Linked DNA regions of Homo sapiens. The protein of the gene in region 3 interacts with the protein of the main gene of each other region in a pairwise test. Each region holds a gene or a part of one and is shown on either strand. Other genes may lie near its edges. The genes, in order: ERO1A, MTNR1B and EBF1.

The links.
Region 1: the proteins of EBF1 (region 3) and ERO1A interact in a two-hybrid assay, tested with the Homo sapiens proteins (one large-scale study listed by BioGRID and IntAct).
Region 2: the proteins of EBF1 (region 3) and MTNR1B interact in a two-hybrid assay, tested with the Homo sapiens proteins (one large-scale study listed by BioGRID and IntAct).

What each region holds. Positions count from the first base shown.
Region 1 is NC_000014.9:52,646,937-52,650,583, forward strand, and holds part of ERO1A (ERO1-like protein alpha isoform 2 precursor), read right to left. Parts: intron 1-3,647. UniProt on the Homo sapiens protein: Oxidoreductase involved in disulfide bond formation in the endoplasmic reticulum. Efficiently reoxidizes P4HB/PDI, the enzyme catalyzing protein disulfide formation, in order to allow P4HB to sustain additional rounds of disulfide formation.
Region 2 is NC_000011.10:92,979,651-92,983,429, forward strand, and holds the end of MTNR1B (melatonin receptor type 1B), read left to right. Parts: intron 1-1,796; coding exon 1,797-2,662; 3' UTR 2,663-3,132; downstream 3,133-3,779.
Region 3 is NC_000005.10:159,097,045-159,101,125, reverse strand, and holds the start of EBF1 (transcription factor COE1), read left to right. Parts: upstream 1-1,209; 5' UTR 1,210-1,647; coding exon 1,648-1,781; intron 1,782-3,169; exon of another isoform or gene 3,170-3,881; coding exon of another isoform or gene 3,882-3,901; intron 3,902-3,995; coding exon 3,996-4,081. UniProt on the Homo sapiens protein: Key pioneer transcription factor of B-cell specification and commitment. Recognizes variations of the palindromic sequence 5'-ATTCCCNNGGGAATT-3'.

The DNA.
Region 1 (3,647 bases), on a different chromosome or scaffold from region 3:
GCAGGAATGGAAAGGAAAAAAAAAATCCTTTGGTTTCTTTTTTTTTTTTTTTTTTTTTTTTTGAGAGTATCGCCCTGTCACCCAAGCTGGAGTGCAGTGGGGGAATCTCGCTCACTGCAAGCTCTGCCTCCCAGGTTCACACCATTCTCCTGCCTCAGCGTCCTGAGTAGCCGGGACTACAGGCACCTGCCACCACGCCCAGCTAATTTTTTTTTTTTTTTTTTTTTTTTTTTTTTTTTTTTTTTAGTAGAGGCAGGGTTTCACCATGTTAGCCAGGATGGTCTCGATCTCCTGACCTCGTGATCCGCCCACCTCGACCTCCCAAAGTGCTGGGATTACAGGCGTGAGCCACTGTGCCCAGCCCTTTGGTTTCATAATAATTCAACCACAGCCCTTCTTTCTGGTATGAATAAGGTAAACAATCAGGTCTTCCTTTGTTAATATTAAATTACTATTACTATTAAAATGCAAAAATATATAAAATATAGTGAATGCCACATACCCACTACCAAGTTTTAGAAAAATTTGTCACAAGTACAATCGAAGCCCCTCATGTTATCTCTCGAGTCCCATATCCCACCCTCTACTACTATATTGAATTTGGCATTGTTCCCTTTTTGTTTTTATGCTTTTAATACATATGTATACATCCATGAACCCTAGAATATTATATCATTTATAATAGGGCGACATGCATCCAGCTAATCTAAACATAGTATATGTCCTTAAGGAATATGGAAAAAAGAAGGGAAGCCAAGAACACATCCTTCTTTTCCTTCAATGGAAATTACCAACTGATCCTCCAAGAGACTCCTGTACTGGACTAAGAGGGGAATCTCAAGCTTACAGTATTCTTAGCAGGAAATCTGACATACATCTCAGATAGAACATCCATTATACAAATTGGCCTATAATTTAGGGAGCACACAGTATTTCTCTTATTCTAATGTGATAAACCACACACTAGGCTCAACCAGATGAAGGCAGGACCACAAATCTAAAATAGGAATAAATCAATGATTGGAACCCACTATTCAAAGGAAACCTCAATTTGCTCTGGAGACAGACTTTCCCAACATGCTTTATTCAGTTTGTGACTTTCAAACAGCTGTAACATGAAAGAAAGTTTTAATAGGATCTAAGATGTAATATCTTTATTAATTAAGACAAAGCCCAAATTGTTCATTGTTACCATATCTTAATAATATTCTCTATCTTGGTTTCAGTACCTGTACAGTAAGAGGTACTATTTTTTTTTTATTTTTATGACCACATGACATCCAAGCAACAGGTACTAATTTTAAACCTACTTAAAACTAACCGGTAATATTACTCTACAAAGATTCTGTGATCTGATTTTAGGTTGCCTTTAAACTAGAGCATTGACCAAAACTTAAAGAAAAATCACACTTTTAACAATAATAACAGAGTAAGAAAGTTACCCTAAAGAACATGTTCCCATCCTATGAGCTGTTGACTTCCAGAAGACTTAATGGTTATTATGAGGATCCACAGAATCCACATAGAGACAAGACTATATACCACAGAATAAATAGCTCACATATATGCACTATAAATTTCCAAATGGATAGAAATGTTATGATCAATAAAACACAACTTTTACTTTTAAAGTGTTACTAAATGCATGGTGGCTTTTTGGCAATCATATTTTCAAAATCAACAGATACTAAAAATACTCTGTCATGAGAAGAGGCCTTGAAAGTTCCTGAGTATAAGAGACTCCCATACTTGTGAGAGTTGGAAGCCTCTGTTCTAAAAGACTGTGCTTGCTTTTGTAGACGCTAATTTCAATGTTTGCTTCTACGTTAATTCAAATACTTGAATGTGACAGCTCTTGAGTAAGTCTTTGTATGACATGTACAGAGAGCAGGCATGGCTGCTTACAATAGCCAAATAAACATTGTAAAATTAAAACCAAGCACATCAAATAGCATGCATCTTCTGCTTAAGTGAACTTAATATGCTAGGACCAAATTAATAGGCTAGAAATTTACTAGATCAAATTAGTAAAAATTAGTAAGGATTTCACAGGAGAAAATCCTTGTGACTTAACAAATAACAATTATGTACAATAACCTGAGTATATCCCCTAATTATCTCAGGTTAGAAAAAGGTATGGTCCTTAAAATAACCAGTACCTAAATCACTTACAGATTTTCCTTGTTTAGACATACAGTTTTAGGTCATCACTTTAAATTACAGCCAGTCAATAGAATGATCAAGCATGCTGTGATTTATATTCAGTGAAACCAACTGACCAATTCTTGCCCAAATTCTCAAATACTTTACAAGTCTTCAAATGAGATCGTATTCTATTTGAATTGAATGCTAAATAATTCTCCTTCATACAAGTCCTCTATTTCTAACCATACATTGATAGGGTACTAAGGAAACAAGATGAGATTTTTAAAATTAATTTGTAAATATGACTGTTTAAATCGATGTTTACCAGAAACTGCTTTTTAAAAAAGTAAATCTTTGATAGTAGCATGTTTTGTTTTTTACATCTTTCCTGTAAAAGATTCAGAAAAATTCTGTTACATCAAGACTCTCTACCTAAACTTCATAGGACATTAAAGGTGAGTGTTTCCGAGTTTTGATCAAATTAAAACATTGTGAGAAATCTTTCTAATCTGCATGATTTAAAAAGAGCTGATGCCAGAACACTTTCCAATAAAGCAGCAAGTAAACTAAAAAAAAAAAGGAACATATTGAAAATAGTAGGAAAAAAAGAAGTCTTATTACAGCATCTTCCCCCTCACTTTCTAGTTCCTGGAAGCTGTTTAGGCAGATTATATAAGCACTGAGGTATGTATTTGTAGCAAGAATGCTTCAAGTAGGAGGTAGATGGGAAGTCAAGAATAAGTATTATCTAACAGCAAAAAAACTGAGTGCATAAAATCAGGTTCTTTCATTACAGAAAGAAAGAATGAAAAGCAGAGGAAGATTTTTGTAAATATTTTGATGAAATCAGGCTGGGTATGGTGGTGGCTCACACCTGTACTCCCAGCACTTTTCGGAGGCCAAGACAGGCAGATTGCTTGAGGCCAAGAATTCAAGACCAGCCTGGGCAACATAGTGAGACCCCAACTCAACAAAAAAATTTTAAAAGTTAGCAGGGCATAGTGGTGCCAGCCTGTAGTCCTAGCTACTCAGGAGGCTGAGGTGGGAAGATGGCTTGAACCCAGGAGTTCCAGGCTGCAGTGAGCTATGATTATGCCTCTGCACTTCAACTCTGGTGATAAAATAAGACTTTATCTCTTAAAAAAACAAAAATATATATACAATATGTATGAAATCAGACATATTTGTATAGAAATCTACCTATACATATCTACCATATCTAGTATCTATCTATATCTAGTATCTTTATTAAGACAAAGCCCAAATTATTGTTAATTGTTACCATATCTTAACAATATTCTCTATCTTGTGTTTCAGTACCTGTTCAGTAAGAGGTACTAACTTTATTTTTACTATTTTTCTATGACCAGATGACATCCAGGCAAGAGGTACTAATTTTAAACCTACTTAAAAAAAAAAAAACTACTCAATAATATTACTCTACAAAGATTCTGTGATATATATATATGATTTCATATGTACATATATATAATTTCATGTGT
Region 2 (3,779 bases), on a different chromosome or scaffold from region 3:
CCTGTCTCCCTGGTTTCCTAACCTAGCTGTGGACACAGTAGTATTATAGTTAGGTCTTGAGAACTCCCAGGACTCCAGTAGACTTGTGTGGGTTCTCAGTGGGGTTGACCCCATTCCTCTGAGGTCAAAATAGGCCCTTCATGAAGGCTTCCTGAGGGTCTTTCAAGTTCCCATCCCCATTCGGACCATGCTATGGGGAATCTTCTTTGAGATGGGGTGAATGTGGGAAGGCTGGAGGCAGTCCTTTTCCTACCCTTGTGGGTGAATAAGTCCAGGTGTGCCATCTACTTCACTTGAAGGGCTGACTCAGGTGAAATCCCAGCTGGGCGGCTCTCAGCCTCCCTTTTTCTGTACCCCGTGGAATCCACACAGAGCCTGGCCTCTCCAATTGCTGTGCTTTGGGGGCTCTTTCCACCTGCCTGACCCTCTAGACCCCCAAAGCCACCACAGCCTCTGTGGCAATGGGACAGACACATGGTGGCTGTGGAGTTTCCATGTCTGTGTCTTTGCTGACTTGGGAGTTCCTCCTGCACACCATCCCAGCCGCCCTCTGCATTCCGCCACCCTAAGGCTGGAGGCTTCACCATGTGGCAAGAGACCAGAAAATTTAAAATACCATGCCCAGTGCACATTGCATCACTCAGGGACCCTGCTGGAGGGAGAGTCTGTTATCTTTTGAGCATACAGTAGGTATTCAAAAAGTACAACACTTGGTGAATGAGAAGATTGGCATTAGTGATGGAACTGCTCACACTATGAGCTTTGTATTGCCCAAACGTTTAGGTTCTTGGTGCTCTATTCGTGAGTCAGTGTTGGTTTTAGAACGCAAACACTTGAGGAGCAGAGATTGTGTTCTTTTAGAGTAAGCCCTGCCTCTGCCCTGGGACTCCAGCTTAGAACATGCCTGAAGCATATTAATTGATGGGTGTATCATTTCCTGAGGCTCTCTCTGGTTGACCAAGCTTGGTGATGTTGGATAAGGCTCCATTCAAAGGATAAATGCCTAGATAGTCCAGGAAGGCCACCATGGTGCAGGCAAAGCAGGGAGGCCCCCCAGAGGCTGTGAGCTTAGGAGTGCTGACAGCCCTTTCTCACCCCACAGGGCTGGGGCTCTGTGCCGCTACTGCAAGTGTCTGTCAACATGGCCACAAGGCTGGGAGTACTGGACCCAGACAGGGCACAAATGGGAATACCAGAAACACATGGTTCCCACTCTCAACACCTTTCTTCTAGTCCAGCTGCAAAATGCAATTCACATTTACAAAACCCATGTAAAGACACTTAGAAAGTAGCCTGTTAACCAGTGGGGAGAAAATGCAAAAGGAGACAACCAGAGAGATGTGCGAGGAGGTGAGGGAATGTGAGGGAGCGATGATAGTGATGAGAAATCCACACTCCTGACTTTCAGACTCTCCTCCTCCGAAATCTTTGCTGGAGCTTAAATGGTGCAAAGCCCGTGAGCATCTGTGCCTATCATGGAAACAGTTAGCATGTGTCAGCACCTGTTAAATCCCTGAGCACTTTGTATCATTAATTCTTACAGCTATACTATGAGGTAGGTATCACTGCCCCTAGTTCACAAATGAGGAAAATGGGGCTCTGAGAGCCTAAACAGCTTGCCTCAGTCATATAGCTAGTGAGTGGCAGAAATGCAATCTGAGTCTTCAGTTCTGTGCCTCTAAGAGCCACTTGGTTTCCACTCACATTGCCAAAAGTAACTTCGTGGAGGGTAGGATGTTCTACAGAATCTAAGTCGTGGGGTCTCGTGCTGACTGTTGCTCTGTTTGCTGCTTCAGGTAATTTGTTCTTGGTGAGTCTGGCATTGGCTGACCTGGTGGTGGCCTTCTACCCCTACCCGCTAATCCTCGTGGCCATCTTCTATGACGGCTGGGCCCTGGGGGAGGAGCACTGCAAGGCCAGCGCCTTTGTGATGGGCCTGAGCGTCATCGGCTCTGTCTTCAATATCACTGCCATCGCCATTAACCGCTACTGCTACATCTGCCACAGCATGGCCTACCACCGAATCTACCGGCGCTGGCACACCCCTCTGCACATCTGCCTCATCTGGCTCCTCACCGTGGTGGCCTTGCTGCCCAACTTCTTTGTGGGGTCCCTGGAGTACGACCCACGCATCTATTCCTGCACCTTCATCCAGACCGCCAGCACCCAGTACACGGCGGCAGTGGTGGTCATCCACTTCCTCCTCCCTATCGCTGTCGTGTCCTTCTGCTACCTGCGCATCTGGGTGCTGGTGCTTCAGGCCCGCAGGAAAGCCAAGCCAGAGAGCAGGCTGTGCCTGAAGCCCAGCGACTTGCGGAGCTTTCTAACCATGTTTGTGGTGTTTGTGATCTTTGCCATCTGCTGGGCTCCACTTAACTGCATCGGCCTCGCTGTGGCCATCAACCCCCAAGAAATGGCTCCCCAGATCCCTGAGGGGCTATTTGTCACTAGCTACTTACTGGCTTATTTCAACAGCTGCCTGAATGCCATTGTCTATGGGCTCTTGAACCAAAACTTCCGCAGGGAATACAAGAGGATCCTCTTGGCCCTTTGGAACCCACGGCACTGCATTCAAGATGCTTCCAAGGGCAGCCACGCGGAGGGGCTGCAGAGCCCAGCTCCACCCATCATTGGTGTGCAGCACCAGGCAGATGCTCTCTAGCCTGGATCTGAGGCACACCAGCAGCATGACAAACTCATGAAATGGTGGGAGAGAGTCTGCTGCAAGGGTGAGACCAGGCAGCCTGCTGGGCCACACTGTCCTGTTGGCATCACAGCCCCAAGGCTGGGGGAACTTCATGCTGGGACAAGCAGCCCATCAACGCCATGGGTTCAGGCTGATCCAGGAGATGCTCACAGGCCACAGGACCTGGAAAACACTCTTGGTGGTGTCTTGGGGATTTGGTGCACACAAGACCAAGGAAAGGACAGAATGAGGAAAGGCCTGGGGCAGAAGAGCCCAACTCCTTCTCATAGCTGACCCTCATCCTCCTGCCTTGGCCTCCTGGCTGCTTTCTCCCCTTCCCCCCAGCGTGGCAGGATCTCTTCCTGTTAGCAAGGATGAAAGAGAGAGGTCAGTAGGACTGGAACTTGGTAACTGCAAGGGCCTCAGGTGGGGCAGGTGCAGAGGGCAAGCATTCCACACTCCGCCATTGACCTTCCCTACACACACACAATCACAACCACACATGCATCACACCACAGACACACCACACTATGCACACATACACTGTGTACACATACATATGTTACACACACATAGCCACCACATCACAAACACACTGCACCCCCCCCCCCCACACACACACACACAGTCACACTGCTCCAGCATCTGGAGCACAAAGTCCGCTTGGCCTCCTTTTCTGGTTCCATCATGTTCAGGTTGTGTGACTTGGGGAAAGTCTCCTAACCTCCCTGTTCCTCAGTTTACTCATCTTAAAGTGAAGATCATGCCGTAGTCAGCCTCCCAGGTTGTTGTGAGGATTCTCTGGGATAACACATCTGCAGAGCTGAGGACAGTGCCTGACATGTGGCTAGCAGGCAGTAATCATTAGCTTTTGTTATTATTATAACTACATAAAATGAAGGAGAAAAGTCATATACAAAGAAAGGAAGGGCTATCACCGGATGCGGTGCCTCACCCCTGCCTCAGCTTGAACCCAGGAGTTCAAGACCAGCCTAAGCAACATGGCAAAACCCTGTCTCTACAAAAATTAGCTGGGCATGGTGGCCCATTCCTGTGGTCCTAACTACTCAGGAGGCTGAGGTGGGAGGATCAC
Region 3 (4,081 bases):
ACATATCTCGAGGACTGCCCGAGAGAGGTGAGCGTGTGAGTGAGAACAGTGCCCAACCCTGGCAGCCTCTAGGCTAGCGGCCGAGAGAGAAGCGTTTCAGAGGCCGGGGTGGGAGTAGAGCCTGGTACCCCACTTCCTGGGGACCCACAGCGCCTCATTTGCCGGGGCCCAGCGTCCATTCATCCCTCCCAGCGTGGAGGCCGTGCCCCTCCGAGAGTTACCAGCCCCGACCTCGCGCACCCATATTCCATCCCACCGCCCCCGCCTCAAAGCGAAGAGGTGGGCACCTGGGACGCGCGTCCTGCTTTTTCTGCCCGGGCTCTCCCGTCTCCTCCACTTTTGTCCCCGACGTCCCAGAACGGCGGAGCAGGACGCGGCATCAGCCCTGGGAGGGCGCAGCCTGCGAGCCTCCAGCGCGCTCAGGGCGCGGCGAGGATGCTAAAGGACTGCAATGGCCAGGATGCAGATCCCCAGCTCAAATTCCTGAGGAAGACACCCGCCTCCCTTTCCCTCTGTCCCCTCTCCGTCCTCGCTCGGACCCGCTCCTCCCCAGCCCAGACGTCAGTGCTCAGCGCTCCTTCGCTCGCCACTTTGCGAGGAACTTTGGCCGGCTCCCCTGCGCCACCGGGAGCGGGATGTTAATGAGAGAGCGTGGCCTGGCGCCGCCAGCGAGCCGGCTCCCGGGCCGCGATTGGCTGCGGTGGGCGGAAAGATGACGTTATGCAAATGAAGGGGCGGGGCCTCGATGCGCGGGCCCCGCCTCCTCCCTTTGGGGTTAGTGTGCCTGTGTTTAGCTCTGGGGAAAGTCAAACTGGATTCCATAGGGAAAGCCTGCAAATCACTTCTATTTTAGCAAGGAGAAAACAGAATCTCCATCCAGCAGGGTCCACCCCTCTCTCTTTCTCCCTCTCCTCTCTATCTCTCTTTCCCTCCCCCCCTTTCCTCTCTCCCTCTCTCCCCTTCCCCCCACCCTCTCTGGTGTATCTGTCTACGGCAACCAGCGTCCTCCTCATCTACACGCAAAGGAAAGAAACATCTTTGGTTGGGAGAGAAGGAGGAAAAAAAAAGAGAGAGAGAGGAAAAAACTTGCCTGGTTGTGGAAAATGACACTTGAAGTAGCAAAGCCGGCAGCGCGAGTTGAGTCTATTGTTTCTTAAATTGCCATCAGGGTTTTTTTTTTTTTTTTTTTTTTTTTTTTTTTTTTTTCTTCCTGCTTCTTCAAGTGAAGGGTACCTCTACAAAAGGAAACTCCAGCCCCTCCTGTCCTCCACCGGCCTGTGATCATTACAAAAAAAAAAAAAAAAAAGCAAAAAAAAAAAAAAAGCACCCAAACCAAAAATCAACCAACCAAACAACCCCCAACAGCCAAGCATACATCTCTAATTTTATTATTTTGGTCTTTTCGTTGGATTTTCCCTTTCTTCTTTTTTTCGGGTTATCGCTCAGTTTTGAGCAGAGGTTTACATTTTTTAAAAATTTGCTTTCCAGCCCGCCTTGATCTTCTAAGTGCGAGTTCATCGTCTGAGAAAAAAAAAAATCTCTGGTTGGCGTTTTTGTTTCTTTTCTTTTCTTTCTTTTCTTTCCTTTTTTTTTTTTTTTAATTTTTTTCAAGGGGGAGGAGATTTTCCACAAGAAAAGGTTGTTTTCATGTTTGGGATTCAGGAAAGCATCCAACGGAGTGGAAGCAGCATGAAGGAAGAGCCGCTGGGCAGCGGCATGAACGCGGTGCGGACGTGGATGCAGGGCGCCGGGGTGCTGGACGCCAACACGGCGGCGCAGAGGTGGGTACTGCGCGGGGACCGCGGCCGAGGTGAGCCGCGAGCGGGAGAGCCGGGAGGCGGAGGCGGCAGCGGCAGCGGCAGCTGCTGCCGCGGGGCCGGGCGGCGGGGTGAGTCCGCAGCCGCTGCGCTCCGCTCTCCGCCGGGGCTCCGCGCTCTCCAGCCGCTCTGCCTTCGTCGCCTGCGGCCGGAGGACCTGGAGCTGTCTGCGAGGAGCCCACGCTTTGCCAGCACTTTCCCCTGCCTCGTCTGTGACTGTTTTCATTTTGTTTTAACCCAGAAGAGGCGTCTCAACACAGCATGTTGGAGATCTGTGTTTTATGTTTTTATGTGATTGCTCTTTCTTTTCCGGCCGGCTCTCTTTTCTTCTTTCCCTTCGCTCTTCCTTTCCCTCTTTTCTTTTTTCTTTCTTTCTTTCTCTTCCTTCCTTCCTTTTTCTTTCTTTTTTCTTTTTCTTTCTTTTTTTCTTTCCTCCTTTTCTTTTTCCTTTTTCTTTCTCTTTCCTCTTCCTGCCTTTCTTTTTTCTTTCTTCCTTCTTTCCTTTCTCCCCCCTTTATTTTCTTCTCTTCTCCTTCCTCTTCCTTTCTTCCCCTCTTCCCTCCTTCCATTTCTTTCGTTCTTCGTTCTTTCCTGTCTCTCTTCCTGCCTTCTTTTCTTTCTTCTTTCTTTCATTTCCTTCTCTCATTTCTTTCCCCCACCTTCCCTTAATTTCTCCCTCACTCTTTTCCTTCCTCCCTTCCTCTCTCCATTTTCTTTCTCTTCTTTCTTCAGCTTCCCTCCTTTCTCCTCTTTCTCCTTTCCTTACCTCTCTGGCTTTCCTGTTTTTTCGTCCCATTTCTCCCCTGAGTCTTCTCTTATTTCTGCTATCTCGTTCTCCTTCCCTCCCTCTCTGTCTTTCAGTTTTTTCTTAGTCTACCGGTAGAATAGCAACTCCCAACTTTAATTCTGATATCTCCCAAAAGTCTTCTCCAGCCCCTGTCACCATGGCCCCTTCCAGCCCTTCTCTCACTCGCAGCTCCCTAGACACTAGACTGTGTGGCCTGGAGGCATTGCCCTTGGAGGTTGACCTGAGGGAACTTTCCTGGGCACACCCAAGGCTCTTTCCCAGGCTCCTGGTCCCAAGTGAGAAATGGCCTTTTTCCCCCCATTAAGCCACCAGCTGAGCTTGGGACAGTGGGAGATCTGGTGGCCCCAGGCCCTATCGGACTCAGAGTGCGGAAGGGGAAGAAGGAAGATGACTAATTACATCATCTCCAGCTTCCCTGGGCTGGGGACAAGTGTCCCCAACACTGTTCCCATCCCCACTGAGTATTAGGATGGGGGTGGGTGGTAGTGAGAGTGAATTGGGTAACTGGGCTGGAAGTGAAAGTGTGTGCGCGGGGCGCTCGTGTGTGTTCTTCTATGTGTGTGTGTGTGCCTGTGCGCGCTTGTGTTGGGCAGGTCCGGCTGTCAGTGGCCGCCTGGCGCCCCAGGCGCTCCAGCCTCCCATCGCCGGCCGGCGCACTGAGCCAGCAGCCCTGGCCTTTAGGATTTCTGGAATGAGTGTGAGGATTTCTGCGGAACAGCGAAACTTTGTTAGGACAGGTCTTTAAGAAAACACCCCTCTTCCCTTTTTCACAGCGACCACCCGCGACAGTTCTGAGCCCCGCCCTCGGACCCTTCTCCACATGCTTTTTGGTGGTGGGGGGATGTGGCTTCCCAAGGCCGGGCACTCGCAGTTGGCCAGAGCTTGAGGGGTTCCTGGAGGGTGGCTGCTGCGGCGAGACGCCGAGCATGTTTTCCATCCATTCCCACCTGCCCTGCTAGCTGAGACGTGAGATTCGAGGGGTGCCGGAATATAACTGTGGGTTCTACTCCGCGAAGGTGGGTTCACTTCATCCACCGCCACTTTTCTTCCTCCCCACGCAGTGCGTGTCAGGTAGGAGTAAATGCTTATAGAGTTTCATCTCGCGCGCAAAACCCAAACAAAACTTTCACACCTCTTCAGCGAGTTCTGAGGACGCACCCGTCCTTGGCGGAGAGGACGAGGACATGAGGGGACATGTGTGTCCCGTTGTCAGCTGGGTCTATGTCGCCTGAAGGGGCGTGAAGAGCGCCCACTGGATGTTTTGGGGGAAGAGGAGGTGGGTGTTTGAGGGTTCGAGTGTGTGTACAGGGTGACAAGGGGCGCGGGTCGGCGTCCGGTTTAGCCATCTAACTCTGCGTCTTTGGCCGCAGCGGGGTGGGTCTGGCCCGGGCTCACTTTGAGAAGCAGCCGCCTTCCAATCTGCGGAAATCCAACTTCTTCCACTTCGTCCTGGCCC